7 linked regions of the Homo sapiens genome follow. The protein of the gene in region 7 purifies or fractionates together with the protein of the main gene of each other region. This does not show direct contact. Each region holds a gene or a part of one and is shown on either strand. Other genes may lie near its edges.

Evidence for each region.
Region 1: the proteins of RBM47 (region 7) and TRUB2 purify together in Homo sapiens (affinity purification with mass spectrometry; one large-scale study listed by BioGRID and IntAct). This does not show direct contact.
Region 2: the proteins of RBM47 (region 7) and MOV10 purify together in Homo sapiens (affinity purification with mass spectrometry; one large-scale study listed by BioGRID and IntAct). This does not show direct contact.
Region 3: the proteins of RBM47 (region 7) and SYNJ1 purify together in Homo sapiens (affinity purification with mass spectrometry; one large-scale study listed by BioGRID and IntAct). This does not show direct contact.
Region 4: the proteins of RBM47 (region 7) and LARP1 purify together in Homo sapiens (affinity purification with mass spectrometry; one large-scale study listed by BioGRID and IntAct). This does not show direct contact.
Region 5: the proteins of RBM47 (region 7) and PIK3C2A purify together in Homo sapiens (affinity purification with mass spectrometry; one large-scale study listed by BioGRID and IntAct). This does not show direct contact.
Region 6: the proteins of RBM47 (region 7) and PUM1 purify together in Homo sapiens (affinity purification with mass spectrometry; one large-scale study listed by BioGRID and IntAct). This does not show direct contact.

What each region holds. Positions count from the first base shown.
Region 1 is NC_000009.12:128,308,948-128,313,415, forward strand, and holds part of TRUB2 (pseudouridylate synthase TRUB2, mitochondrial), read right to left. Parts: intron 2,655-4,468; coding exon 2,582-2,654; intron 2,077-2,581; coding exon 1,940-2,076; intron 929-1,939; coding exon 603-928; 3' UTR 1-602. UniProt on the Homo sapiens protein: Minor enzyme contributing to the isomerization of uridine to pseudouridine (pseudouridylation) of specific mitochondrial mRNAs (mt-mRNAs) such as COXI and COXIII mt-mRNAs.
Region 2 is NC_000001.11:112,677,659-112,681,158, reverse strand, and holds part of MOV10 (helicase MOV-10), read right to left. Parts: intron 1-3,500.
Region 3 is NC_000021.9:32,640,379-32,644,846, forward strand, and holds part of SYNJ1 (synaptojanin-1), read right to left. Parts: intron 3,080-4,468; coding exon 3,032-3,079; intron 1,756-3,031; coding exon 1,717-1,755; intron 1,589-1,716; coding exon 1,518-1,588; intron 1-1,517. UniProt on the Homo sapiens protein: Phosphatase that acts on various phosphoinositides, including phosphatidylinositol 4-phosphate, phosphatidylinositol (4,5)-bisphosphate and phosphatidylinositol (3,4,5)-trisphosphate. Has a role in clathrin-mediated endocytosis.
Region 4 is NC_000005.10:154,796,536-154,801,003, reverse strand, and holds part of LARP1 (la-related protein 1), read right to left. Parts: intron 1,414-4,468; coding exon 1,245-1,413; intron 1,132-1,244; coding exon 962-1,131; intron 1-961. UniProt on the Homo sapiens protein: RNA-binding protein that regulates the translation of specific target mRNA species downstream of the mTORC1 complex, in function of growth signals and nutrient availability.
Region 5 is NC_000011.10:17,116,896-17,121,363, reverse strand, and holds part of PIK3C2A (phosphatidylinositol 4-phosphate 3-kinase C2 domain-containing subunit alpha), read left to right. Parts: intron 1-1,389; coding exon 1,390-1,578; intron 1,579-2,050; coding exon 2,051-2,144; intron 2,145-2,624; coding exon 2,625-2,719; intron 2,720-3,692; coding exon 3,693-3,873; intron 3,874-4,468.
Region 6 is NC_000001.11:30,930,561-30,934,384, forward strand, and holds the end of PUM1 (pumilio homolog 1), read right to left. Parts: intron 2,783-3,824; coding exon 2,651-2,782; 3' UTR 946-2,650; downstream 1-945. UniProt on the Homo sapiens protein: Sequence-specific RNA-binding protein that acts as a post-transcriptional repressor by binding the 3'-UTR of mRNA targets.
Region 7 is NC_000004.12:40,426,903-40,431,370, reverse strand, and holds part of RBM47 (RNA-binding protein 47), read left to right. Parts: intron 1-3,788; exon of another isoform or gene 3,789-4,468. UniProt on the Homo sapiens protein: Single-stranded RNA-binding protein that functions in a variety of RNA processes, including alternative splicing, RNA stabilization, and RNA editing. Functions as an enzyme-substrate adapter for the cytidine deaminase APOBEC1.

The sequences.
Region 1 (4,468 bases), on a different chromosome or scaffold from region 7:
AGGTTGAGTGTCATTTCTGGCTTACTAGCCATTTGGATTTCTTCTGATACACACTTCATCTCATTTGCCTAATTTTGTCGTTGTCTTCTTATTGCTTTCTAAGGGCTCTCTGTATACTATGGATATTAGTCCTTGGTTAATGACACTGCAAATACTTACAATTTTTTTTAATTTTTAATTTTCGTGGGCACATAGTTTATTGAGAATTTTTTTTTTTTTGAGATGGCAGGGGTCTCATATGTTCCCCAGACTAGAGTGCAGTGGCTATTCACAGGCGCCGTCTAGCGCACTACAACCTTAAACTCCTGGGCTCAAGCAATTCTCCTGCCTCAGCCTTGGGAGTAGCTGGGATTACAAGTGCCCGCCACCACGCCTGGTCTGCCAATACTTTCTATCAGTCTGTCATGTTTACTGTCTTTTCCTCCATACAGAAGTTTTTCCTTCTCAGTTGGGTCAAGTCCATTGACCTTTCTGTTACAGCTTGAGTTTTGTGTCTTACGTAGAAAAGGTGCCCCTGCTCTCACTTTCTGCACAGCTATCAGGTCCAGCTCATAGCAGTTCTTCTATTTATCCATCCACTGCCCCAGGAGCTGCCTGGGCATTCACTGCCCCGCACCCCTCTCCAGCCCCAAGGTAGAGCTCGGGCCCTGGGAGTCCCAGGACCATCCCGGACTGGGGAGCTGCTTGGTGTCCAGCCCCGGGCTCAAGCTCTTCTCCAGCTCTGCAGCTACCTGAGGGGTAGCAGCCCGGATAGCATCCTGGATGTTGGTTAGGTCCCACTGGGTCCTCAGGAGGGCACTGTCTAGCGTGAAGAAGCCGTCGCGCGTGCGCCGCACTTGGGTGCAGACAGCAGTGGTCTTTAGTTCCAGGCCGATTTCATGAACCAACTTCCGCAGCTCTTTCTGCGTCTCATGCATGCACTGCACCTCTGCCAGGGACACACAATGACAGACATGGTGGTGAGAGCACAGCCTCTAGTGTGTGGTTGTGAACGCACACCCCTTGGATACCTCCTAGGTGTGTAACAACCTTAGCAAGACCCCTAAGCTCTCCAGGTTGTGCTATTCAGAGGACCTGCCCTGTGGGTGCCACCTGAAATGTGTTAAGACTTGCAGAACCTCAGGCCCCACCGGGACCTGCCAAGTCAGAATCTGCCCTTTTTTGGCAACAGGGTCTCATTCCATCACCCAGGCTGGAGTGCAGTGGTGTGATAACAGATCACTGCAGCCTTGACCTCCTAGGCTCACATGATCCACCTGCCTCAGCCTCCGGAGTAGCTGGGACGTTCTGAGCCATCACAACTGGCTAATTTTTTATTTTTTGTAGAGACAGGGTCTCGCCATCTTGCCCAGGTTAGAACCTGCCTTTTACTAAGACTCGGTTTCCCTATCTGTAAAATGGGAGTTATGAGGAGTAAAAGAAATCATTTATAGAAAGATAAATGATTATCTTTAAAATGTTATTAAGATGTTATCTTAATAACAGAGTTCTGTGCTCAAGCAGAGGAGCAGGCATTAACATGACCAACAGAAAAAAGGGGCGGGCGCAGGCAGAGACAAAAGGAACACAGATAAGAGGGGCCTGAGCTGGGTGGGACTGGGGACGTAAGAGTTGTGTCTGATGGAGCCCTCACAGCTTCAAACATGGGCAGCTCTGGAAATAAGCCACTAAATATAACCTTTGCTTGGTAAGGTCTGGCTTCCAAGGGTGACTTGGCAAGAGATAGGAGAGCTTTTGTTCTGCGAGCTCTGTCATCAGCCAAGTCCAGGCCAGGGCTGGGAAGGAAGTCGGCACCTGATGCCTTGGCCCGCAGAGATCAGGGCCGGCGTGTGCTGGCCTCAGCTGAGCCAGACAACAGTGACCTCTGCAAGAGCGTTCCTGAGTGACTCCCAAACCTACGGGTCCCATCTCACTGCTCCAACTTCCTTGGCCAACCTACCTAAGAGGAATTCCGGAGGTGCAAAGTAGAGGCATCGGATGCCAGTTATCAGCATCGGGGACTTGTTCATGGGCCGGATCAGGCCTCTCACGGCCATCTCATAGGCCTCCTGGGTCTTCAGGTCGAGGTTGGAGTACCTGCAGATCAGGAAGGGGGCTGCAGCTGGGTGGCCCACCTACCCTTTCCCCCACATGAGGTGCCTCTCTGGAAGCTCCTCACTTGCTTTGTGTGCCCTGCCACCGTGGCTCCTCCAGCCACCTTTCCTGCCCTCCTTCATCACCAGGTGCCTGGTAGAGTCAGGAAACCCAGGCAAGCTGGCTCCAGAGCCCAAGCTCTTAACTCCTTGGCTGCTCTTGCCCTTGGGCTCTGTGCTCCAATGATGTGGTCCCTGGTTTCCTTGCCATTAGATCATATACTCTCAGCAGGACAGCTTGGTTCTCTTGCTCTTCTTGGCCTCCCGTTGGCCAACCCAAGACCTGGCACACAGAACCATTTCTTAATGCCAAGAAAGAAACAGGTAGCTCCCGTCTGGTTCTGGGCTCTAAAAACAAGATCCATGGAATCTGCCCCAGGTTTGGGGGAGCCTACGGGAGCCAAGGGCACTTACTGCTCTCCCAGTACCTCCCTGAGGGCCCTACTCACATCACCAGGGCCTTCTGATGGGAGCCTTGGATAACGGCCAGAATGCGGTCCAGCTTCTCTCTGGTCACGTGGTCTGGAAAAGGCAGGGGGTTGTCAATGTACAGGTACCTGCTGAGTATTGGTCACAGCAAACTCCTTCCCCCCAGGCCAGCCCCATCCCTGGAACATGGAGAGAGGATGTTTTGGAGGGATCCCCATGGCGGGGTGGTTGGGAGTCCTTTGAGATTCTCATGAAAGCACTGGACCTCAGAAAGATACTGGATCTCAGAAAGATACACATGACTCAGCAGCAAGGGCACTCTATTTTTTTTTTTTTTTTTTTTTTGAGACGGAGTCTCGCTCTGTCACCCAGACTGGAGTGCAGTGGCGCAATCTTGGCTCACTGCAAGCTCCGCCTCCCAGGTTCATGCCATTCTCCTGCCTCAGCCTCTCGAGTAGCTGGGACTACAGGCGCCCACCACCACGTCCGGCTAATTTTTTAAATTTTTAGTAGCAAGGGGGTTTCACCGTGTTAGCCAGGATGGTCTCGATCTCCTGACCTCGTGATCCGCCCGCCTCGGCCTCCCAAAGTGCTGAGATTACAGGTGTGAGCCACTGCACCCAGACTTTTTTTTTTTTTTTTTTTTGAGACGGAGTCTTGTTCTGTTGCCCAGGCTGGAGTGCAAATGGCACAATCTCAGCTCACTACAAGCTCCGCCTCCTGGAGTCAAGCAATTCTCCTGCCTCAGCCTCCTGAAAAGCTAGGATTAAAGGTACACGCCAAGACACCCGGCTAGTTTTTGTATTTTTAGTAGAGACGGGGTTTCACCATGTTGGCCAGGCTGGTCTCGAACTCCTGACATCAGGCAATCCACCTGCCTTGGCCTCCCAAAGTGCTGGGATTACAGGCGTGAGCCACCGAACCTGGCCTTTTTTTTTTTGAGATGGAATCTCGCTCTGTTGCCCAGGCTGGAGTGCAGTGGTGAGATCTCAGCAAACTGCAAACTTCACCTCCTAGGTTCAAACGATTCTCCTGCCTCAGCCTCCCGAGTACCTGGGATTATAGGCGTGCACTACCATGCCCGGCTAATTTTTTGTATTATTATTATTTTTTTTTTTTTTTTTTGAGACGGAGTCTCGCTTTGTTGCCAGGCTGGAGTGCAGTGGTGCAATCTCAGCTCACTGCAACCTCCGCCTCCCAGGTTCAAGCGATTCTCCTGCCTCAGCCTCCTGAGTAGCTGGGACTACAGGTGCCTGCCACCACGCCCGGCTAATTTTTGTATTTTTACTAGAGACGGGTTTTACCATATCAGCCAGGCTGGTCTCAAACTCCTGACCTTGTGATCCACCCATCTCGACCTCCCAAAGTGCTGGGATTACAGGCGTGAGCCACTGCGCCCGGCCTCTTTTTAAAATTTAGAACAGTAGCCAGGCGTGGTGACTCACACCTGTAATCCCAGCACTTTGGGAGGCCGAGGTGGGCAGAATACCTGAGGTCAGGAGTTCCAGACCAGACTGGCCAACAGGGTGAAACCCAATTTCTACTAAAAATACAAAACATTAGCTGGGTGTGGTGGTGTGCACCTGTAATCTCAGCTACTCCGAAGGCTGAGGCAGGAGAATTGCTTGAACCTGGGAGGTGGAGGTTGCAGTAAGCCAAGATCGCGCCACTGCACTCCAGCCTGGGCGACAGAGCGAGACATCGTTTCAAAAAAAAAAAAAGAAAAGAAAAGGAAAGGCTGGGCGCGGTGGCTCATGCCTGTAATCCCAGCACTTTGGGAGGCCAAGGAGGGCGGATCATGAGGTCAGGAGATCCAGACCATCTTGGCTAACATGGTGAAACCCCGTCTCCCATCTCTACTAAAAATACAAAAAAAAAAAAGCCGGGCGTGGTGGCGGGCGCCTGTA
Region 2 (3,500 bases), on a different chromosome or scaffold from region 7:
ATATCAAGAGGTACCTGAGTACAGGGCGGAATGTGGAAATGGAGGTTGGATGCCCATAAGGGGAGGGGTCCACAATAAAAATGATATGTGATAATGATCCCACGTGTGTAAACTTATGTAGGTGTGATATAAGCATGCCTGCAAAAAGAGATAAATGAACCGGGTGCAGTAGCTCACGCCTGTAATCCCAGCACTTTGGGAGGTCAAGGCAGGTGATCACCTGAGGTTAGGAATTCAAGACCAGCCTGACCAATATGGTGAAACCTCGTCTCTACTAAAAATACAAAAATTAGCCAGGCATGGTGGTTCACGCCTGTAATCCCACCTACGTGGGAGGCTGAGGCAGGAGAATTGCTTGAACCCGAGAGGTGGAGGTTGCAGTGTGCTGAGATCGTGCCACTGCACTCCAGCCTAAGTGACAGAGAGAGATTTAAAAAAAAAAAAAAAAAAAGAGATAAATGAAAAGGTGATCACCAAAAGTTTTTTTTTTTTTTTTTTTTTTTGAGACGGAGTCTCACTCTGTCGCCCAGGCTGGAGTGCAGTGGTACAATCTCGGCTCACTGCAAGCTCCGCCTCCCGGGTTCAGGCCATTCTCCTGCCTCAGCCTCCTGAGTAGCTGGGACTACAGGCGCCCGCCACCACGCCCAGCTAATTTTTTGTATTTTTAGTAGAGATGGGGTTTCACCGTGTTAGCCAGGATGGTCTCGATCTCCTGACCTCGTGATCCGCCCACCTCTGCCTCCCAAAGTGCTGGGATTACAGGCGTGAGCCACCGCGCCCGGCCCAAAAGTATTTTTAAAACATTTAAACAAGTATCTAACATAAAACATTAAAGCCCTTAATTCCCTTGCTTCCAACTACTTGCTTGATTAGGAGCAATTAATTAAACCCACTATTTGATGTATGTTTTTCCTGATTTTTTTCTATGCATATAAAACACAATAATGAGATGATACATGCTACACATACTATTCTGCAGCAGGCGTCTTCCCACCATGGATCTTCTCCCATAACAATGCTTTACAGAACCACCATGACCTTTTGAATGGCTACAAAAGATAGCATGTATGAATGCATCATGGTGTGTTTTTTTCTCTAGTGATAGACAAGCTGCCTGAAATTTCTGGCTACTCCTAATGTTACAATAACTATCCTTGCACACAAACCCTTGTACTTGTAGGCAAGTCTAATGGGATAAATTCCTTAAAGTACAACACCTGGGTCAAAGAGAATGAACCTTTACAACTTTGATAAGTTCTGCCAAATTGTCCTTTAAACAGGTTGTACAAATTTATGTTCTCACTAACAAGAGTTAGAAAATGCCCTTTTCCCAAAGCTCTAACATCAGAAATTTTCAATGTTTTAAATTTTTGACAATTTGATTACAAAAACTCCTATCTTTTTAAACTGTGCATTTCTCTGATCACCAATATAGTCAAGGATCTTTCCTTCTTTTATTAGTCATTTATATTTCTTCTGTGAGCTGCCTGATCATACCCCTTGCTCAATTTTCTAGGTTCCAGTTAACTGTTCTCCCTACCTCTGGCTTCATACCCCTACACTAGGCCACCCCCTATATCTGCAGAATTGTCATCAAACACAAATCTGATCTTGTTCCCTCAATTTACAACTCCATAGTCCACAAAATTAAGTCTTTAATATGGCACCTTCCAAGATCCTCCATAGTAACAACGATAATGCAAATACAATAACATCAACAGAAAACGTTTCCTGAATGCATTATCTCATTCAATCCTCAAAACAACCCTTTGAGGTAGTAATTATTATCATCCCATTTTAGAGAAAAAGAAATTGAGGTACACATCCTCAACCACACTTGGCCTCTTGTCAATCCATCCTTATTTCAGCCATTCCCAACTACTTGTATCACTGTGCCCCTCTGCAGACTTCTGTGCTGTGGACATCCTTAGCCTGCACTGCCCTGCCTTAGGCCGCCCCTGCTGTTTGTTGGGTGAACAATGGCTAATCTTTTTAGACCCAGTTCAGGAAAGGCCAAAAGCTAGAGGAATGGTATTTCAGCACATATGATCAGATTTGGAAGTGATCTTAAAGAGACATCTAGTTTCACAATCTATAGACTATGGATTCCAACTCCCATTAGCGGGTCAAAGCCAGGGTTTTTATAAAATTGAAATAAAATAGAATAAAAAATATCAGAGAGCAGGGAGTGAAACTATGTATTGTTTCAAGGGCAGGCATTGTTTTGTGAAGGTTGTGTATGCCAGGTCCCAAAGTAAAATGTGTTTTTTACTGTGGGTAGAGGTCCAACCACCAAGCCACTCTCCACGCCAGAAGCCAGAATGATCTTTCTAAATCTGATTACGTCAGACTCTTACTTTGAAATTTTCTGTGTTTTCCTATTTCCATTAAGATTAAAGACAAAACAAAACACCTCACAATGCCTACCCAGGGCCCTGCTGGTCTCCCGTTCTTCTGAGGTCATCCCAAGCCTTTGAAGGTGCTGTTCCTGCCTGTACACTCTACCCTTGCCCTTTACACCTTCTAAGTCCCATTAATCCTTCAAGATTCTACTCAAATATCACTTTCCCCAAGAAACCTCTGCCTAAGTTTCTTGATCTAGTCTAGGTTGCTAGACTAGGACAGATCTCCAAATTATATACTCTCAATGCATACTGGACTTTTCTGTACAAGCACTCATCACAACCGTAATTAAATAATTATCTAACTGCTGCCTCCTTCCTTAGTTAGTTGGGTTCCTTTTGTATATTTCTAGCAACTCACTTTTGCTTTGCCATTCATAGGAAGCACTCAGCCAGTACTTGTAGAAGAATGAGTCTCCTGTCCAAAGCAAGAATCATCTTCTCTCAGAAACCTTTTCGTGACATCAGTCCTTACCCCATACAATGGACTCCTAATCATCATCGCACTAATGAGGGGTACCACTTAACAAAGCCAGTGTAATATGCTAGCCACACAAATGCTTTGCCTAGGACAACTCATTTTGGTCTCTCACAACCCCGAGAGAAAGGTACTATTTTACATACTCTTACAGTTGGGGAAATGGAAAATTTAGAGAGTTGTTCAAAGTTAAATGCAACCACTAAATGGCAGGGCTATCTAAACACCATTACTAGCACCTATACTACTGTATTGCATTTGTTTGTCTACACATATCTGCTGCTCTTTACTAGATTATATTCTTTGGAGGCAAGGACCAAGGCACAGGCACACAGTAGAGCCTCATTAACTATATTTGCTAAATGAATAAAGGTAGGTGGGAAAAGGCAAGAGTTCAGAGCAGAGCACTTTATAACATCATAAAATAACCTAGCTGGAGAGACCTATCCCCTCTCAGTGTAGGAATCTCCTAGAATTCCTAAAGAGTGTGACTTGCTATACCCCCCGCTATATGGCCCATTCTCTTGTTAGTTAACTCTAGTTGCTAGTTCACTTAGATTCTGCAAGCATTTATTGAGCATCTACTACATACAAAGCTCTATGCTGGGGACTGCAGACAG
Region 3 (4,468 bases), on a different chromosome or scaffold from region 7:
CTCTGCCTCCTGGGTTCTGGCACTTTCCTGCCTCAGCCTTCCGAGTAGCTGGGACTACAGGCGCCCGCCACCACACGCGGCTAATTTTTTGTATTTTTAGTACAGATGGGGTTTCACCATGTTGGCCAGGATGGTCTCGATCTCCTGACATCATGATCCACCCGCCTCGGCCTCCCAAAGTGCTGGGACCACAGGCGTGAGCCACCGTACCTGGTCAAGATTTGTTTTTTAAGAGATGGGGTCTTGCTATGTTGCTCCAGCTAGACTTGAACTCCTGGGTTCAAGCGATCTTTCCAATGTAGTCCCCTGCGTAGCTGGGACTACAGGTGCATGCCACTGCCACCCAGCCATATATATTGCTTTTAAACACAGAAGTACAACTTTTGAATGACTAACTCAATATTCCGAATTAAATACACTGAAAGACTCATCAGTGAAAAATATTTTTTCTATTTTCATATGTTTGCTGAAGGATCTAAGCTAACAATATTTATTTTAAGCAAAATATGAACTTTTAAACTCACAAAAATCCTGACTTTCTTTTCCTATACTTATGGTATTCAACAGAATCAAGAAAGTTCTTGTGCCAAGTGTGGTCATGGGATCAGTGAATGGCAAATTTCCCTTTTTTTGAAAAAAGGAGGATAAATATTTGAAGAGTAATATTACATATAAAAAAGAACCTTCAGATTGTTAAGTGGACAGCTACAACAGAAAAGACAAAAAGCTTCTATCTTCATAGGAAGTGGTTTCCTCAGTTCTCACAATCTTAATAATCTTAATTTCTAGGTACAGTAATAGCTCTCAGTTTCCTACTCTTCAGATATGGGCCTCTCAGTAGTCCCAGCTCCTACTGGACTAGCCTAAGTCACTGATTACTGGTTTCTATTTGCTCTTTCTCTCTGTTCTTGATTACCTGTTATAGTCCAGAGAAAGTTTTCAAATAATAAAAAACCTATGTGTATAAGAGAACATATAAACATACAGAAAAGACACATTCATCAGGTAGGGAAAAATCCTGTAACAACATCTACTCTCCTATTTCTAATACCTTTACGGAATATGATGAACCTGATCAAGAAAAAAACCAAAAAGAGAAAAAAACCTTTAGAACCAGTTTTACTATACTGAATTTATCATTTTTTTTTCTGAAATGTAATTAAAATCCTTTTTAATGAAGGATTACTTTATATCTTCATTAATTACTCAGGTAAAATGATAAAAAGCTGCCCAAATCCATCATTTCCTCATATACTGAGACTCTTAAGATATTTATTTAGTGACCATAATTGTTTTAAGTGTATCACTTTTATCCAAATAATGAAGTTTGTTATTTTTGAAGAGTATGTTAAAATAATGTTAGAGTCGGAAGATCATCAAGTGCAATTCCCTCATTTTAGAGATGAGGAAATTGAGGCCTTGAAGGGTCACATGATTTCTCCAAGGTAACAAAACTGACTAGTAGTAAACAGGACTTAGAACCGAGACCCCTTGGCCCCAGGCGAGGTTTTACCTACCGGTCTGGCTGTACTGTATCCAGCAGGTCCTGGGCCTGCAAGTCCTGCTTGAGGTGAAGGCTGACTGCGTCCTGGAACAAAGACATCATATCATATATTTAAGTTTAAAAAAATAAACAAGAAACCATGTACTTATATTCCAAGTGTCTATTTCACGGTCCAGTTTTAAGGGTGAATAGCTACATTCAAGTGTTTTTACCTATATTATCTTTCCTTGTTGTTCCAGGGCTTTTGGGTGCTTTGAAGCAAGAAGGGAAAAAAAAATTAGTTGTAAGTTAACAATTAAGCAATATTGCATAACATCAGCTTGCTGTTCTGCTTCATTACCAGCAGAAATGGGGGCATGAGATGGTAACAAAACAAAGCACTTTGCTTTGTATAATGATGAAGGGTATTATCAGTCCTGAATGAAATACTCCAAAAGAGAGAAAAATTACAATATTTAGATAGACCTTTATGGGAGACAAGTGGTGACTTTAGTTTGATATCTCACTCATGGGACCACTTTTAGGGTGGCATTCCCCATAGAACTCTCTCGTGAACCTTGAAAACATACAGTCAGCTGTGTGAATGGTCACAAGATGCGGCACTGCTGCCCCTTAGAGTCTGGCAGACAAGTGGCTTCTGAGCAACAGACAGGACTGCATTTGTCAAATTACACAAGAGGCTCCTAGTAGCAATACTTTAGGGCTTCACGCTGTAGATGTCACTGTGGATAAGGTTATCTTATGATGAGATCTTTCGGATTTCTATAACAAAATCCCATCATTAAGACAGAAGACAGGCATATGTTATTACCAAATATCTGCCTTATGGAAGACAGTGTTAAAAATATGTTCAAACTCATTAGAAAGGTAGCTGAAGGATAAAATGAAATAAATTACTCTTGGAGCCAAAAGGAGTAGGAGTGACTATCAAGGGCAGCATCTTAAATAAACTCTCCTTTTTGTAAAGAAATTCAAGTACAATTGTTATAAGAAATACATCAGCCTTTTAATAACTAAAATCATAACAAATGGCCTCTAGTCTTAAAGGTCTTTTAAACAAATCTGGCTCAGTGCTAATCTATAAAATAGCTATGTTATCTGAAATCAACTACAAAATACTATATTCTTGGATCTGAATTAATAGGGTTTAATTATAATCATTAATTTTTAAAACTTCAGATTAGTAAAGTACATTTCTAAATATTTTACTTATTCTGAAAAGAATTTTGAAGACATTCTTAAACAGTAATTTCACAACCTGGGCATATATAAACTATATATGAAACAGAGTACAAACAACATTAAGGATCTCAGGGAAATTAAATGGATATCCATTAGAAACTATAGGTGACATAGAATGAAGAGAGGAAAAAATACAAGGTATACATAAGGAGGGGAAAGAGAAGTTTACAGCTGGACCAAGAAAAGATTTAGTATGCCTGCAAACACTGCGGGGTGGGGAGGTGGGGCGCTGACACTGAGAAATAAAATGAGAGAACCACTTCTATAATGCAAGAGTCTTGTTACCTTCCATCTCTCTCCTAGCTACCCCAGGACTGGGAGGGGCTCCAATACCTTTTTAGAGAAAGAACAGAAACTATATATTGTTCAGGGCCCACAGCACAGAATGAAAGGCAGGCACACAAGACAATTTCCATAGTAAACTCACTTTTGCAAAAAGGCTCTTTTATTGCTTTAAATTTCTTCAAAGATATCAATACAAACCAAAGTGACTTTAGATGCTTGGCCCAAATCTGAATCCTCCCTTTACTCAAACAGAAGAGTAGAAACAGGATGACAGTTTTCTTTTTATGTATGCAATTACTACCAGTAGGGAATTTAAAAAATATGTTTAATGAAGACCTTTGCTTTAAAAATCATCTTACTCCTTATATCCAGAGCAAGTAAAAACTCTGATATTTGATAGTCAAAAGGAAAGAAATCATAAATTTCTATGAGACTACGTAAGTCTTTTGAAGTTAGTTTTTGATGCATTAATTTTAAAAACTCTAATGTACTATAATGACGTAAAGGAATTATTGTTTATAGGATGAAAAAACATGTTGCAAACACTACTTACAAAAGAATTATGAAGGGGAGCAATTTTTAAAATTAAGACAGATTTCACTGTAATCCACTGGCTTGCCTAACTTTTGACAGATTCATTTTAAATTTATTTTCTACAGGATGTTTTCCTAATTAAAGCAGAAGATAAGCAAAAATTATCATGGAAATTTAAATAAAAGCAGGAGCTTGAAAAGGGAAAAATTAAATGTTTTCTATAAAAGCAGGAGCTTGAAAAGGGAAAAATTAAATGTTTTCTGTAGGTCAATGGAGAAATGATCACTTAGCTGTATTCGGCAGAAGCTGTAATGCTGAAATAATTTAGCTATTCTTATCACACGCAGTCATTAAGATCTACACACAGGCAAAGTCAGTCTGTAGTAAGACCTGAATTGCTCAGCCATGTCACTAGGCAAGCTACAATAGAAACAGACCAGGCTACACATGCACAGTGAGCCTTAGTAACACTGGATTTGTAAAAGTTCTTCTGAGGAATTGTGAAAACTCATCTCATCTTTTCTTGAGATTTAGATTAAATAAACTTGTCAAATGTATAACTCCAACTGAGCTCTGTGAGTTTTCATGTAAACCAAATAAACTATACTTCAAACAAAAAGTGACCCTTTGTGAATAAAAATTTCCTTATGAAGAAAGGAAAAGAAAATCATACAGTTCTTTGCTAATCCAAAAGCTTTTCCACTAGAAAATAAATGTATCACTAATCAGATACTTGGGAAATGTTCTGTATTTACTGTACCTGAATGACTTTTAAAATTAATATAACTTTTGGGTATTAAATCTTTGTAAATGAATCGACCACATTTATTAAAAAAAAAATTAGGCCTGATGAACAATCCCAGCCTACCTGGGAAATGAAAGCCTTTATTAGTTTTATTTGTG
Region 4 (4,468 bases), on a different chromosome or scaffold from region 7:
CCCTGTTTCAAACAAAACTTTGTAGGCCTGGACTTTGTAAAACCCTCATCTACTTACTACCTTTCTCCTCATGTCTCTGGCTGGATCTCCAACACTTTTTGAGGGCTGAAGCCACAACTGTGGGGAATTCTGTGTATGAACAGGCAGGCAAGAGAAAGGAGATGAGAGGTAATCACTGTGGGAAAATAGATAAGGGAGTATAGAATTCCATAGACCCAAAGTTCAAGGTCAATTCTGCAGTCTCCTCACAAGCCCCAGGCCAGAGGTCTCCAAAGTGGGTGACAGTGAGCAGGTATGTGGAGAAAAATTCAGCACTTAAAAAGGAAGTAGTAATTTTAGTTAGAGATTGCAATACTTCTTTAACAGTGAACTTCATCTGTTTATATATATAAACTATTTCTAGAATATTCTAATGTCTCCTTCCTTTCATCTGCAGATGGAGAAACTGAAGCCTTGAGGTATGAACAGGCTTCCCAAGGTCACCTTGCCATTAGTGCAGCAGACTTGTGTAGACTAACTCCATATTTGGGCCATGCATCTGCTCCCTCTCCCTTCCTTCTTCTGAGGACCTAAGGGGCTTACATACATGATAGTGGGGACATACTCAGGGAAAAGACACCAAAAACGCAGCCCCAGAAATTTAGATGGAGCAAAAAGAAGAGCCAAGAATCAAGAAGCCAGAAACATCGCTGCCAGATGCTGCATGATCCCTTAAGAAAAATGTCACCGAGGAACTCACACAGTAGGGCGCCCTAAAGGGTGGTTCCCCACAGGAAATGGAAACAAGCCAAATCAACCTTTCTGTAGCCACTACTGGTAACTTCAACTCACACTATGATCCTGAACTACCCAGATTTCCTGCTGGCCCCTCAGAGCTAGAGTGCTGTGCCCATGTGTTATCCCCTTCAAGCACCCTAGCTCAGAGTGCTAGAACCAAGGCAAGGGACAAGGCCTCACCCACCTTGGGCCGTGCTGGGGATGGCCGAGGCCTCTTCTTCACTTCAATCCAGTTCTCAGAATCCAGGTCAGGCAGGCTGGCAGACAGGCCCTTGGGTAGTGTCTTTAGGTTGCTGACCTCCTCTGTTTTGGTTGGCACTGGGGTGACTGCACGAGGAGAGCCAGGTGCCGACTCTAAAGGGTGGAAAGGGGAAGTCCTCATCCCTCCAGTCCTCCTCCTGATGCCAGCCCTGAGGAGGACTGTTGCCCAGAGGACAAGGGCAATCTTCATGCCAGCAGGTACCTACCTGTCTCCTTTTGGTAGTGCTGACGGGGAACAAATTCAGGGCAGTTGAGAAGCTGGGAGAAATCAGTCTGTGAATAATCCACTATTGGGGGAAGAGGCCACTTTTCTGGTTCCTCCCTCCTACGAACTTTCTCATCAACGATCTCCACCACCTTGCTGTCCTTTAGGGCCTGAAGGGGAGGAGAAGGAAGAGGGGATTAAGAAGAAAATCTTGGACAGAAAGATCTTGGAAATGGTAGACAACTGGGTTCCCCTGAGCTTGGTATGAGTCCAATGCTACCAGTAATATAAGAAAATTGACACCATCTTCCACGACTGGTAGATAATGTGAGATGTTCAAACTTGTAGGAGGTACCAGCATAATAAATACACCTACCCTTTTACTCTTTGAGCCTGCAATCCTACTTCCAGTAATCTGCTCTAGAGAACACTTGCACAAACAGGGAGCAGTATGTATAATATCTGGACAAAAAGCCATTCACAGTAAAACTAGAGTAGAAAAAGAACTATAAAATACCTAACTTGCCATCGCATAGGCAATTTAAATATTTACAGCATATGCATGATGGAACACTACTCAGACATTAAAAAACTTTACAGGTCGGGCCTGGTGGCTCACGTCTATAATCCTAGCACTTTGGGAGCCCCAGGCAGGCAGATCACAAGGTCAAGAGATTGAGACCATCCTGGCCAACATGGTGAAACCCCATCTCTACTAAAAATACAAAAATTAGCTGGTTGTGGTGGCACACGCCTATAGTCCCAGCTATTCGAGAGGTTAAGCAGGAGAATCGCTTGAACCCAGGAGGTGGAGGTTGTGGTGAGCCGAGATGGTGCCACTGCACTCCAGCCTGGGCGACAGGGCGAGACTCCGTCTCAAACAAACAAACAAACAAACAAACAAAAAAACAACCAACTTTACATGTGCTGAGGTGGATAAACCCACAAAATATTAATCAAAAAAGCAGGCTGGGTACAGTGGCTCACACCTGTAATCCCAACATTTTGGGAGGTCAAGGTGGGTAGATCGCTTGAGCAAAGGAGTTCAAGACCAGCCTGAGCAAAATAGCGAGACTCTATCACTACAAATCGTAAAAAGGTGGCGCTGGCATACATCTGTGGTCCCAGCTACTTGGGAGCCTAGATGGTTGAGGTTGCAGTGAGCTTTGATAACACCACTGTACTAACTCCAGCCTGGGCAAAAGAGCAAGACCTAGTCTCAAAAAAACAACCAAAACATCCATCTATAGGAGCAGCAGTTGAAAAAACATGGAGCATTCCACACAATGGTGAACTATGCAACTGTACACAGGAATGAGGAATATCTTTCTATTATATACTGCTACTTTGCAGTTAGCTCCCAGATATATTAAGTTAAAACAAAAAAGAATTGAAGAAATGCCATGTGTTGTATATTTCCATTTACCAAGGATACAAATACATGTAGAGGCATTTGCTTTTTTCTTAAATGGAAAGGTTCTAAAAAGTTTGCCTGTAAGAGAAGAAAGGGTGTAAGTGACAGAATTTAAGTCAGACTTCTATGACTATACCATGCTGAGACTCTAGAACCACGTAAATGTTTTACACAAATGTAAAACAACTTAGAAAATTATAGGGGTAGGGAGAAAGCAATCTCTAAAACTTGGAAGCAAAATAAAACTAATATATATATCAATTTAAATGTGAAACCACACAAAGATTCTTTCAAATGACTTGAAGATACTGTATAAGTGGAAAAACTGTTTTCAGTGGTAGTGGAGGTATTGTAAGAATGTAGAGCTTGGCACAATGGCTCACGCCTGTAATCCCAACACTTTGGAAGCCGAAGTGAGAGGATGGCTCAAGCCCAGGAATTTCAGACCAGCCTGGGCAACACTGCAAGACCTCATCTCTACAAAAAATTTAAAAATTAGCCACACGTGGTGTGCACCTGTAATCCTGCTACTCAGGAGGCTGAGGCAAGAGGATTGCCTGATTTCAGGCGGTTGAGGCTGCAGTAAGCCATGATCACACCACTGCAATCTAGCCTGTGAGAGCAAGACCCTCTCTCTTTAAAAAATGTTTAAAAAAAAAAAAAAAAGACGGTAGACATACTGTGAAATAAAACAAAATGAGTAATTATGTTGGTATCATTAGGAATTAAGATTATGGGCATGGAAGAAAGCAGTAGGTAAAATAAAAGATCCACAAGTCTACGTAAAGACCCTTTAATAGAAAATACCAGAACAGGCCGGGCGCGGTAGCTCATGCCTGTAATCCCACCACTTTGGGAGGCCGAGGTGGGTGGATCACCTGAGGTCAGGAGTTCGAGACCAACCTGGCCAACATGGTGAAACCCCATCTCTACTAGAAATACAAAATTAGCTGGGTGTGGTGGTGCATGCCTGTAATACCAGCTACTTGGAAGGCTGAGGCAGGAGAATTGCTTAAACCTGGGAGGTGGAGGTTGCAGTGAGCTGAGACCATGCCACTGCACTCCAGCCTGGGCAACAAGAGTGAAACTCTGTCTCAAAAAAAAAAAAAAAAAAAAAAAAAAAAACAACAACAACAAAACAGAATAACTCCATGATGTATTTTATCTCACCAAAAAACAAAAAAATCATCTAGAAAGAATGACCAACCAAGTAGCAATAAAGCACCCCTATAACTCAGACTGGTATCTAAATACCATTTCCCAAAAGAAAGGAACTAGAATTCCTTTTAAAAGTGGCCAATTCCAGATCTGGGGCAGGAAATGTATAGGGTCCCACTGACCAAAGGTGGGACAATTTGATCCAATCCATTAACTGCAATGGACCAAAATAAATACGTTTGAGCCCATAAGCTTATAATAACAAATGATACGAAAACAAACCACCAAATCTCACTGGTCACCTATGAAACCTATTAGAGATCAACTCATAATTATGCAAACTGGCTAACAAAGGGAGGAAGATCAAACATTAATCTGCCCTTCCTGAACAAACTATACCTCTTGGTAACTGAACAGTTGATGAGGCAAAGTTACTTCTTGAAGAGGTATTCCACCTAATAAATGAAGACCGACTGACAGAATTAGTATATTGTCATTTTGCAATCCTAACGAACACTGCTGGCAGCTTATAGCACAAGAGAGACAATCAAATGAAATGTTATGTGCCACCTGAGAGAAAATACATCATTATGATAAAGTATTCTTGACAAGGAGGGGAAAAAACTTCAAAACCTGAATCTGATCAGGCCTCT
Region 5 (4,468 bases), on a different chromosome or scaffold from region 7:
GGGAGGATTGCTTGAGCCCAGGAGTTGGAGACCAACACTGACAATATAGTGAGACCCTGTCTCTACAAAAAAATTAAAAGTAGCCAGGCACAGTGTTGTGCATCTGTAGTCCTAGCGACTCAGGAGGCTGAGGTGGGAGAATTGCTTGAGCCCAGGAGGTCAAGGCTGCAGTGATCTATGATCTCATCACTGCACTGCAGCCTGGGCAACAGAGCAATACCCTGTCTCAAAAAAGAAAAGAAAAGAAAAGAAAAGAAAAATTGATTGGAAATGTCCATCAATAGGGATTAAATTAAGGTACATTTATCTGGTAGAGAACCATGTAACTATTAAAAATGAGATTGTAGGCTGAACGTGGTGGCTCACACCTGTAATCTCAGCACTTTGGGAGGCTGAGATGGTGGCACATGCCTGTAATCCCAGCTACTTGGGAGGCTGAGGCAGGAGAATCGCTTGAACCTGGGAGGCGGAGGTTGCAGTGAGCCAAGATCGTGCCACTGCATTCCAGCCTGGGTGACAGAGCGAGACTCCATCTCAAACAAAAATAAAATAAATAAAAATGAGATTATAGCTGTATGTACTAATTTTTAAAATAGGTTAGCTGAAGAAAACCAGGAGTAGAATAGTGTATATAGTGTATTACCACGAAAATAAAGGAAAAAAGAGGATCTACATATATCCGTGTGTGTGCCTCTGTATGAATAAACTCTCTAGAAGAGCATACAAGCTTAGGTGGTTGCCTCTTAGAAGGGGAATTAGAAGGAGAGAGATTTCACTGTATACCTTTTGCAGTGTTTGAATTTTTTCATTACTCCACATGAAATGAATAAATTTCAGTGCATGTATATGTATATATATATTTATATATATATGGATGGATAGTAAAATGGTGAAATATTTCATTCACGTAAACATTTGTGATTAAGCTTAAAACAATTAGGATCTTCAAAACAAGTCCTTTTCATTTGAACTGTATAAATATGTTCCAAAATTTTATAGTAGTATTTTTTTTTTCATAGCATTTGATTTTATTTGTACGAAATGGATGAAATCCTTGCTATCTCTTAGGGTGGGATCTGCTTTTTCAACTCTGATTTCTAGTGCCTGGCATCTAGTTAGAGCTCAATAAATTTTTATTATACTGAATTATCCTTCATTTTCCTAACTAAGCATCTTTTATCAAGACATAATCATTCCTTTCAGTTCCCGGATTAGCATTAATTACTGGCATTTGCCATACATTGCATTTTTCTATTCCAAATTAGTATTAATGATTTTATGAAGAAGTAGCTGTCCCAAATAAATAAATTTCTTCTTTGTATTTTTAATCATTGAGATTATATCATTATGTTATCACTGAGAAGTAATTTAATTCTATTATATATGCAGACTTTCTAAAGAAGATAAAGCTTTTTTATGGGAGAAACGTTATTATTGCTTCAAACACCCAAATTGTCTTCCTAAAATATTAGCAAGCGCCCCAAACTGGAAATGGGTTAATCTTGCCAAAACTTACTCATTGCTTCACCAGTGGCCTGCATTGTACCCACTAATTGCATTGGAACTTCTTGATTCAAAGTAAGTCAAATACATTTATTTGCTCTTGTTTTATTGTCAGTTTTTCCAGTAAGGTATGTTGCCAGAAGTATTTCCTTTCCTTTTAACATGAAAGCAATTCAATATAATCCAAATGTGTAAATGTATATTTATACAAACATATCTTCTGCATTGAAGTTGTCAATAAAGCATTGCATGTCCTTTAAAACTAGCCTAAAGGAAGGGTTAGGTTGTAAATTTTGAATAATTTATATTTTTATGATGTGGGCCAGAATTAATTTTCATAAACTTAAGATTCCTAAATAATCCCTAAATTGAATCTGTATAGCACAATAAGATTGTCTTCTTACAAAAAGAAGAAATACATTGCTTTTGAATAAAAGAGATATCTTAGTGTTCTTTGTCAGGACCAGATTGAGATTGTGTTTTCAAAAAATACAGCTTCACTGGAAAGAAATCACTGTCCAATCTTGGTTTTATGGTAATCTTCTAGATTTGCTGATCAGGAAGTAAGATCCCTAGCTGTGACCTGGATTGAGGCCATTAGTGATGATGAGCTAACAGATCTTCTTCCACAGTTTGTACAAGTGAGTTTTTTACTAGATTACCTCCCTTTATACTTTCACTCTAGTTTTTTATGGGAACTTGCTAAGGGATCCCCATTCTGTTTAGATTAAAAGTCGTTTTTTAGTGTGGGAACATTGAGGGGCATTGCATTTGGATTTAGTGTGAATTTTTTCCCCACTATTGTCATCTGCCCCATTTGAATATTGTATATAGGCACCTGTATTTTTAGTTTTCAGACTTTTTAGAACAAACCAGACTTGAGCTTTTCCTTGATTTTTCTTTACTGGTGAGTTCAACATAGCTAATGAATGTTACTCTATACTTTTGTGTTTGATTTAAATTAGTTTGGCATAGGTTAATTCATCTATTTAATTTTTATAAGTATCATCTTTCATCAGTAAGAGTAATACTTGCTTTATATAGTTTCTCTTTTGATAGTTTTATTGGAACAATTTAGTATGGGTTAGACCACTAATAATTCTTATTTTCTTTTACTGTAGGCTTTGAAATATGAAATTTACTTGAATAGTTCATTAGTGCAATTCCTTTTGTCCAGGGCATTGGGAAATATCCAGATAGCACACAATTTATATTGGTAAGATTTAAATTTTATTGATTACCGTATTTCCATTCCTAGAATTTATAGAAATGGCATACCCTGTAAGTCTAAATGGTATGCCACACTACTTATTGTGGATACAAGATATTTTATTGAAGGTATTATTTTAAAGGAGCTAAATTTACCCTCTAATGCAAAAATTTGAAAACCCTCATTGCAAAAATTTGGTGTCTTATAGCTCTGTAATAATGAATGGGTTTCGACTTGCTTATATAGCTTAAAATACATTTCTGGTTATCAAAAATTGAGGCCAAGCGTGGTGGCTCATGCTTGTAATCCCAGCACTTTGGGAGGCTGAAGCTAGTGGATCGCTTGATCTCAGGAGTTTAAGACCAGCCTAACAATCATGGTGAAACCTCATCTCTACCAAAAATATAAAAAATTAGCCGAACATGGTGGCATGTGCCTGTGGTCCCAGCTAGTTGGGATGCTGAGGTGGGAGGATTGCTCGAGCCTGGGAGGTGGAGGTTGCAGTGAGGCAAGGTCATGCCACTGGACTCCAGCCTGGGCAACAGAGCCAGACCTGGTCTCAAAAAAAAAAAAAGAAAAAAAAATTGAACTTGTTATTTTTCAGAGAGGTTCACCTAGTTCTTAGAAGTGACTAACATGGCCGGGCATGGTGGCTCACGCCTGTAATCCCAGCACTTTGGGAGGCCGAAGTGGGCGGATCACAAGGTCAGGAGATCGAGACCATCCTGGCTAACACAGTGAAACCCCATCTCTACTAAAAATACAAAAAATTAGCCGGGTGTGGTGGCGGGCGCCTATAGTCCCAGCTATTCGGGAGGCTGAGGCAGGAGAATGGCGTGAACCCGGGAGGCAGAGCTTGCAGTGAGCCGAGATGGCGCCACTGCACTCCAGCCTGGGTGACGAGTGAGGCTCCGTCTCAAAAAAAAAAAAAAAAAAAAAAAACCAAGACGTGACTAACATAAATATTTTGCTGTATTAGGCTTCTCAAAGATGCCCTGCATGATGTACAGTTTAGTACCCGATACGAACATGTTTTGGGTGCTCTCCTGTCAGTAGGAGGAAAACGACTTAGAGAAGAACTTCTAAAACAGACGAAACTTGTACAGCTTTTAGGAGGAGTAGCAGAAAAAGTAAGGCAGGCTAGTGGATCAGCCAGACAGGTATGTACCCATAAAAGGTAATATAAATGTGTTAATGTTAAAGGAAGGATCTTTATGGTGCTGACTAATTAAGTTGCTATTCTTTATTGGTAGACTCCCAGTAGAACTCTAACTATACCCATGCTATTTGGGGCAGATAAATTCAAAGATTGTTTAAAATATATAGGAACATATTTCACAACCTATTAAAATCAGTGATTTTCCCATGCTTATTTATTTCCATGCTTATTTATTCCTTTCTGATGAAAATTGTTTTCTTGAATTCCTTTACCTCCACTATCAAAGTCCACAGTATTTTCATCACACCAAAAAGAAAGCATGTCCCCATTTTCCCCTCCCAGCCACTAAACTGTTTTCTGTCAATATGGATACGTCTATACTTCTATATGGATATTCTGGACACTTCATGGACTTTTCTGTCTAGTTTCTTTCACTTAGCATAAAGTTTTCAGAGTTCATCTGTGTTCTAGCATGTGTACTACATGCCATTTTTGGTTGAATAATATTCCATTGTGTGGATATACCACATTTGGTTTAAACATTCATCAGTTGGTGGACATTTGGGTTGTTTCCACTTTTTGACTATTAATAATAA
Region 6 (3,824 bases), on a different chromosome or scaffold from region 7:
ATGAGGTGAACTAACTTGCCCAAGTGCACACAGAGTGGCGAGACCCACATGTGACCCCAGGTCAATCTGACTGGAATCATGCTATCAGAGCAGCATGGACTGCAGTTCCCAATGCCCGCAGCATGCCACCTCTGCAAGCGCCATGATGGCTACTGCAGTGGGGAATGCTGGGAAAGGGCCCCAACGACAGCTGCTGAGGCAAAATCACATGCTGGACTGGAAACCTGCATCCCCTCAGCTTCCTTTTCTTCTCCCCCTATTCCCAGGGCCTGTTAGTGATTAGCCCTTCCCCTTGAGGGGCCCATGTGAAGTTCCTTCAACCATCCTGACGCTCCACTTCCAGACACCAGCTGGTGTGGGCTTCCACCTGGCCTCTCTGGCTGGACCCAGCCTGTAACTGCCAACACTTACCAAATCTGCCCCTGGAGCAAAGTCGGTGAAGAAGGGCAGATGGCATCCTCAGGCTAGGGCCACGGGCACAATTGTGAGCTCCAGCCTCCTGTGTTACAAGCTAAAAGAGGCTCCCCAGTCTGAAGAGATGAGCATGCTCAGACATTGGACTGCTTGGCAGGCCTCAGTAGTGGGCACAGGTTGGCAGGGAGCAAATGGAGCAGCCCAAACAGAGGAAACGCGGAGGAGGAGAGGCCCAGACAGACGGTGCTGTAACCCAGACAGCTCATCTCAGGGGCCCAAGGAGAATATTCTGATGTGCAGAGTTGGAAATCTGGATTTGTATGTGCAGTATCTTGATTCTGAATGCACTGGGCAGGCTGAACCAAACATCTTTGGTTTAAATTGGGCTCAAAGAGCCATTAGTTTGGCACCTCTCCTCCCACCCTCACAAAACAACAAAACAAGCAGAAAGAAGCATGAGCAGGAAAGGGCTGTCCTGGGGAACTACACTGGGGGTGGGGTGGGGGGAGAGGTTAAAATAAAGCACAAACCCAGATTCCAAAGTTCTGTATTTTTCAAAATAAAGATCACACATTGTTTAGAGACAATCTACACAAGAGTTACAAAAAATAGTTGCCCAGGCATAAGCATACACAGGTTTGTTAATTATACACATATGGTTACAAGTGTGCTTGCAAAAAAGTTCATTGGAAATATACACAAGGCTCTGGAAATGTACACCGTGTAGTGTTACAATTCTATATTCAAACAAGGAAAATTGACAGTATGTTACATTCACTTACAAGTAGACAAAATGCAAAATACAGTTCATCTTCTGTACAAAAGGGAAGGGCGATTCACACTTTACAAGGTGAGAGGGGCTCTGATTGTAAGGAAAGCTCGGGCAAGGCTAGACTTTTGCACGTCCTTTTGACTGTCACAAAATCAAAACATTACTTTTTTAGGATTAAAAAAACACTAGTGAGAACTCAATCTTGAATAACATTTAGAAAGAATCTCGCTATACTTGAGACTAGATGACAAATAAAACCAAGCTATTTTTTTCTTTTTAAACATTAACTAGGCTGTATAAAGAACATTTATTCCTTCAAAAGAAAAAAATTTACTTCTGGTTGAAATTACAATTTACAATATACAACACTATATGCTACGACCATAAAAGGTGAGAATATACACTGAATGCACAGGGCTGGCTAATTCTCTTTTCTTACCAAAAAACGTGTTTATGTTGATTCAAACTTCTCCACATTTACATTACAGGTATACAAATGTACAATTGTACAATCAAAAGTATGTTCGACTACTAGGGTACATTATAGATACAGATTAGACATCAAAACAAGAAAATACTACAAATTTGTATATATGCAAAGTCTACACCAAGTATACACTATATATTTATAGAAGCAAGACCAAAAGCAGAGTTGGATTTTTTTTTCTCATGCTAAATAATCAGATTTTACCTTTCAATGTTAATAGAAAAAAATCCAGTAGGCAGTAAACAATCACACCCGCCCAGCCTCAAAAGACGTTCTGGGTGCTCGCATCTCCTCCTCACGAACAGCCTTCTTCAGCATAATATAGTCTCCAAAAAAGGCATTTTTTAGAATTTCATAAACTTAATGTCACAAACTGAAGCTTTAGCAACTCTGAAACCTTTTTCATTATATATATATATATATATATATATATTTTTTATAAACAGTGTTAAATGCCAGTTTGGGGTCATTTAACTACAATTCAAACTTCTCAGGTTTTTTTGTTTTTGTTTGTTTTTTACTAAAATGAGGAGGTGGGGAAGAGCTATTTGCAAAACTTGCCGGCCAGGCAAATGAGCTAAAAACCTTTTCCTTTTTTTCTTTTTTTTTTAAAGCTTTTTTTTTTTGTTAAACCAACCACCCTGAAAGTTTCCACATGTGAAATATAGATACAACAGTGAACAAAATATGTGGCCTCCCATGTACATTGGTTACCTATGTACAAGTATCCTATACACCAGTAAAACAGCAGGGCAATTAGTCAATTAAAAAAAATAGTACATGTTATGTGTAATAAAATTAAATTTACAAAGGCTTTTCCACTCGTGGATTTGATTCCTTTTTTGGAGGAGGGAGTAATCCTGGAGCAACCACTTGCCCGTCTCAGACTCTACACTAGAACATTTCTGGTTGCTGGTTGGATTTGCCAGTGGGCCAGTGAGGTCAGCGGGAATGAGGGAACAGCGGGTGACACTGCCTCAGATGATACCATTAGGGGGGCCACAGATGGGCCCTAAGTCAACACCGTTCTTCATGTAGTACTTCTCCAGCTTGGCCAGAATGTGCTTGCCATAGGTGTACTTACGAAGAGTTGCGATGTGGGGCCGGATCTGGGGAGGAAAGACAGTCTGTGTTACATGGCCTGAGATGAGACTTGGGGGCAGGCTTCCCGGACATGCATTTGCATGTCATGCATCACACACACATACACACACACACACACACACACACACACACACACACACACACACACCCCTACAGCAATACCTTTCACTGGCTCAGCCCAGTCCCCTGACTTCTAGCACTTTGGCAACCCATCAGATGAGGAGAGGAGCTCCTACCCTGAGTGGTGCCACAGGGCCTGAGGACCCTGGAGGCTGGGTGGCCATGGGCCACTCCCAGGACAACACATGGAGAAAGTGCATCCTAGCTGGGAAAATACACTGCCCACTACCCGCCAGCTGCACAGTGCTTCCCTGCAAGCATGAGCACAGGCCCCTCTGGCCCCATGCACGGCATCCAGGCTCTCCTGAGCAGTGGGGGTTATTTCGGGTCACCAGAATCCTGAGCTCACCACTTGACCCTGTCTCTCCAGGTCACAGTGGATCACAGAAAGCTAATCAATGACAAGAAGAGAAATGATGAACATCATGAGCTGGTGTGATTATCCCCATCTTACTGACAGAAAACATGAAGGCACAGAGTAGTTAAGTCACTCAGCCAAGGTTGAATGGCTAACAAAGGACAGCACAGATAGCTGAGCCCAAACTGTGTGGCTCCTCCACGAATCAGGTTTCTCCCCACTGTGCTCTCAAGGCACGCCCGCCACACCAGCCTCATCCCTCAGGCTCTCCGACCTATGCTCTGAGTCACTTCTCCAAGCATTCCTTTCTGTTCTTCCTTCCCTGGGCTGATCATTTCAAGAAGTCCTACATTCCAGAAAACTTGAGAGGTGCTTCTTCTCTGGAAGCCCCTTTTCTTTTCTGTGAGCTCAGGGAGCATTCTACATACCTCAGCTGTGTCTGCTATCTTTTGCTTAATTATCAATCTTTCCATATAAACAGTAAAGGACCACAGTTTATTCATCAGATTCCCCATCCAAACCTGCACCTGCATACATAAACGCACTGGATAAATGTACCGCAGTAGACA
Region 7 (4,468 bases):
TTTTCTCTCTTGTACTCCTGATTACTACATCATTACTTGGCCTATGGCTGCCAGTGTGTTCTATCTCCCAAGGAAAATGAAGCTCCTACAGACCAAAGACTGTGTCCTGTTTCTTTGTATCTTCACCTTATAGGACATAGGGAGGACATCCATTTAACAGAAGAAAATCTTGTTAAAGCTGTTTTCTGTGAGGCAGTGAATCATGAATACCGATCACAAGTACTCAGGCCCAGGATCCCTTATCCAATTGAAAAAGAATTATCCAGGCCACTTTTTTTGATTTTTGATTTTTGATTTTTTTGAGACAGTCTCACTCTGTCACCCAGGCTGGAGTGCATGGCTCACTGCAACCTCAACCTCCCTGGTTCAAGCAATCCTCCCACCTCAGCCTCCCAAGTAGTTGGGACCACAAACACGCACCACCATGCCCGGCTAACTTTTTTATTTGTAGGGACAAAGTCTTGCTATGTTGCCCAAGCTGGTATTGAACTCCTGGGCTCAAGCGATCCTCCCACCTCAAGCTCCCCAAGTGCTGGGATTACAGGCATGAGCCGTTGCCTACATTTTTTAAAAAACAGAGATTCTTAGACTCTAATCCCTGAAGATTCCAATTCGGTCAAACTGGGCTGGAGTCCTAGAATTGATATTTTGCACAGCTCCTCAATGATTCTGAAACAGAGCCAGGCCTGTGACCCTCCACAGTAGGATGCTGTTTACTTGCTTTTGCCCACTCTGAACACTAGTCTTGACTGCATTATTCAGAAAGGGCAGACTAATTGAAGCTTATTTATCTTTCAGTATGTCATTAAGTATTCTTTAACTTGGGATCTCTGAAAGACAAAAAGAGGAATTGGTTGTAAATGACACTGTAGAATAACAACTAAGTATAGTTATAATACTTGTGGACTGACGGTAAATATTTACTATAGCGTAGCAGCAGTACTTAGTGGAATTCTGATAATAATTTCTAATTCTCCTTTAGTAAGAAATTCATGAACACTTGTCTTTCATGTGCACTGTGAGTTCTGGTCAGGTCCAAATTCCAGGCACCATAATCATGTCCTGACTATTTCTGTCTCCTATCAGTCCGCACTGGCTGTTGCCATCAGGGTTTTTTTTTTGTTTGTTTTTGTCTTTTTTTGTTTGTTTGTTTGTTTGTTTGTTTGTTTGTTTTTTGCGACGGTGTCTCGCTCTGTCGCCCAGGCTGGAGTGTAGTGGCGTGATCTCGGCTTACTGCAACCTCCGCCTCCCAGGTTCAGGCGATTCTCCGGCCTCAGCCTCCTGAGTAGCTAGGACTACAGGCACGTGCCACCATGCCTGGCTAATTTTTTGTATTTTTTTAGTGGAGACGGGGTTTCACCTGTTAGCCAGGATGGTCTTGATCTCCTGACTTCATGATCCGCCCTCCTCAGCCTCCCAAAGTGCTGGGATTACAGGCGTGAGCCACCGCGCCCGGCCACCATCAGGGTTCTTATTTGCAGTCTTTGCTTATCCTCCCCTACCTTCGATCATCCTCCCCTACCTTGTAGGCGCTCAGGGGTGTTCCTATTTAGCCAATTTAACAACACCTCTTGGTATAGTTAGAGCAAGGATAACTGCTCCTCCTTGACAGGAGGGAAGACTGCAGGGACTCTTCACCTGAATTAGAGGCACTTTTTTTTTTTTTTTTTTTTTTTTTTTTTGAGATGGAGTCTCACTTTGTCACCCAAGCTGGAGTGCAGTGGCGGGATCTCAGCTCACTGCAACTTCCGCTTCCAGGGTTCAAGCGATTCTCCTGCTAGAGGCACTTTTTAGGGATGGGTAAATGTTTCTCCCACTACCATCATTGCATTTTTCTTTATTCCTGCTCTTTGATGATGCTGTATTAATGCAATTGTATACTGGTCCCCCCTTATCCTTGGGGGATACATTCCAAGACCCCCAGTGGATGCCTGAAACACAGATATTACCAAACTAATAATATACTATGAACGAATTTTTTTTTCCTTCTTCACAATTTCACAGATAGAAAATTTCTTTCTTACTGTAGTTCTTAGCAACCTCAGCATAGGATTTTTTTTCTTTCCTTATTAAGTAGAGAACTTTCCCCTTTTCATTTACAGGAAGGCCTTTAGTGCTCCTCGTTGGCATATCCAAATTGCCAGCATTACTACTCTTGCACTTTGGGGCTGATATTAAGTAAAATAAGGGTTCCTTGACGGTCAATCTGATAACCCAGATGGCTATTAAGTGACATGGGCATGGAGCACAGACAGTGTCGTTTTCCTGGACAAAGGGATGATTGGTGTCCCGGGCAGGATGGAGAGGGATGACATGAGATTTCATGGAGCTACTCAGAAGGGTGCACAATTTAAAACTTATGAGTTATTCATTTCTGAAATTTTCAGTTTAATATTTTCAGACTTCAGTTGACCGCGGGTAACTGAAACCATGGAAAGCAAAACCAAGTGCTTCCCCATATATTCTCATTTTACAGATAAGAAAATTAAGGCCCAGCAAGGAGACAGAATTGCTGGCCGGGAGTAGAATTGGGATTGGGAGATCAGATGCCTGATCTCTGCATGCTTTGTCCTTATAGTGTGGTGAATGCTATCATAAAAGGGACATCACATGAATGAAAAGAGAAGCCATGGGTTTGGGGACCTACTCTTGATTCCAGGCCGTAAGCCAGTGCATGTCTATGTGCAAAACTTGGTGTTGGAGTGGGCAGCCTGAACCCAGGTGTTGGGCCGTCCTGTAGCACATGGAAAGGTCTCTCTCACATGTTGCCTTCCCTGCCATTTCCTCTCCCTTTTTGCACTGGTTATTAAACCTACGTCCACACATGTGGAAAAGGTGACTTGTGTCTTGCTGTGAACCACAGTCTTTCCAGTTCTGGAGCTCCTCTCCCTGGTTGTAAAATGTCACTGATGAGACACTCATTGTTTAGGGTTGTAAGAAGCAAGTTAACGTAAGGCTAAAAGTGCAGGCTCCAGAGTCACACATTGCATTGCTTAAAAGCTGTGTCACTTTGTGCAGGTCATTTAACACTTCCACACAACTCCATATAATCATAGTACCAACTCTACTGGTGGCTGTGATGATTCAATACTGTCATACAAATAAGGCACTTAGAATAGTGCCTGAGTTTGGGGGTTTGTTTTGTTTTGTTTTGTTTTGTTTTGTTTTGTTTTGTTTGAGACAAGGTCTCACTTCCATTGCCCAGGCTGGAGTGCAGTGGTATGATCCCAGCTCACTGCAGCTTTGAATTCCCAGGCTCAGGTGATCCTTGCACCTCAGCCTCTTGAGTAGCTGGAACTACAGGAGTACGCACCGCCATGGCTGGCTAAGTTTTGTATCTTTTGCAGAGACAAGGTTTCGCCATGTTGCCCAGGCTGGTCTCGAACTCCTGGCCTCAAGCCATCCTCCTACCTCAACCTCCCAAAGTGCTAGGATTACAGGCATGAGCCACCTCACCCAGCCTCTGAGTTATTAATTGTTATAATTATCATTATAATTATAAATTAAAATTATTATAAATTATAATTACTATTTGATTATAGTTTTAAAAAGTAATCTTAGGCTAGAAGTTCCTAAGTTCCTTTGAGCACAATTTTGGAACTCTGATTTGCAAATTTTGTAACAGAAATTAGAGCTAATTCCTTTATAAAAATCCAGGAAGAAATAATTATTTTAATTCACCATTTCACATATGCTGAATTGTTTATTTTGAAGATGTATTAACATATAGGGAGACCATACCAGCATTTACTACCAGGCATTCTATGGCTCATGAGGTGCACCAAATATTTTGTTAAATGAATGTTTTATTTTATTCAGAATCTCTTTTCAATGAAGCATCTCACAGAACTAGTTCCATGGCAAACACTTTGGGAAATACTGAACCACAGTCTTCCCATTCATACTCCTGTTTGTTCTGAAAACATCTTATGTTGCACTTTCAAGTAGACAGAAGGAAGTAGCAGGGGCTTTTCTAGAGCCAGTGGTGGCCGTCAACAGTTCAGGCAACTTTACTTAGCTTGTCCTTGCCCACTTCTTCCTCATTTGGAAACTGCTCTTTATCCTTCAAAACTCAGCTCGAATATCCCCGCTGCTGAGACATTTTCTCCAACTTCCCCATTAGTTGGTTCTTTCTCTAAGCTTCTACAACAATTTGTATACATTAATGGTGTCATCTCTTAGGTGGGAGGTGATGGAAACCATCACATTGGCTGAAAATTGTGTATGGTCACAATTTTTTAAGGTCACAGCTTAAGAAGCTGTCCCTTTGGAGATCAGTATATTTGGTTTCTCTAAGTTGACACAGTCTGTTCCTCTCTCTGTCTCTGAGACAGATCATATTCCATCAGTTAAGTATGAGTTGAGGCAGCTGGCATGTATCTAGAGGCCATGTTTAAGGAAAAACACTGATTTTTAATTACTGTGAAATCAATTGTGTGGATGGTAGATTCTCCGCTGCCTTCTCTAG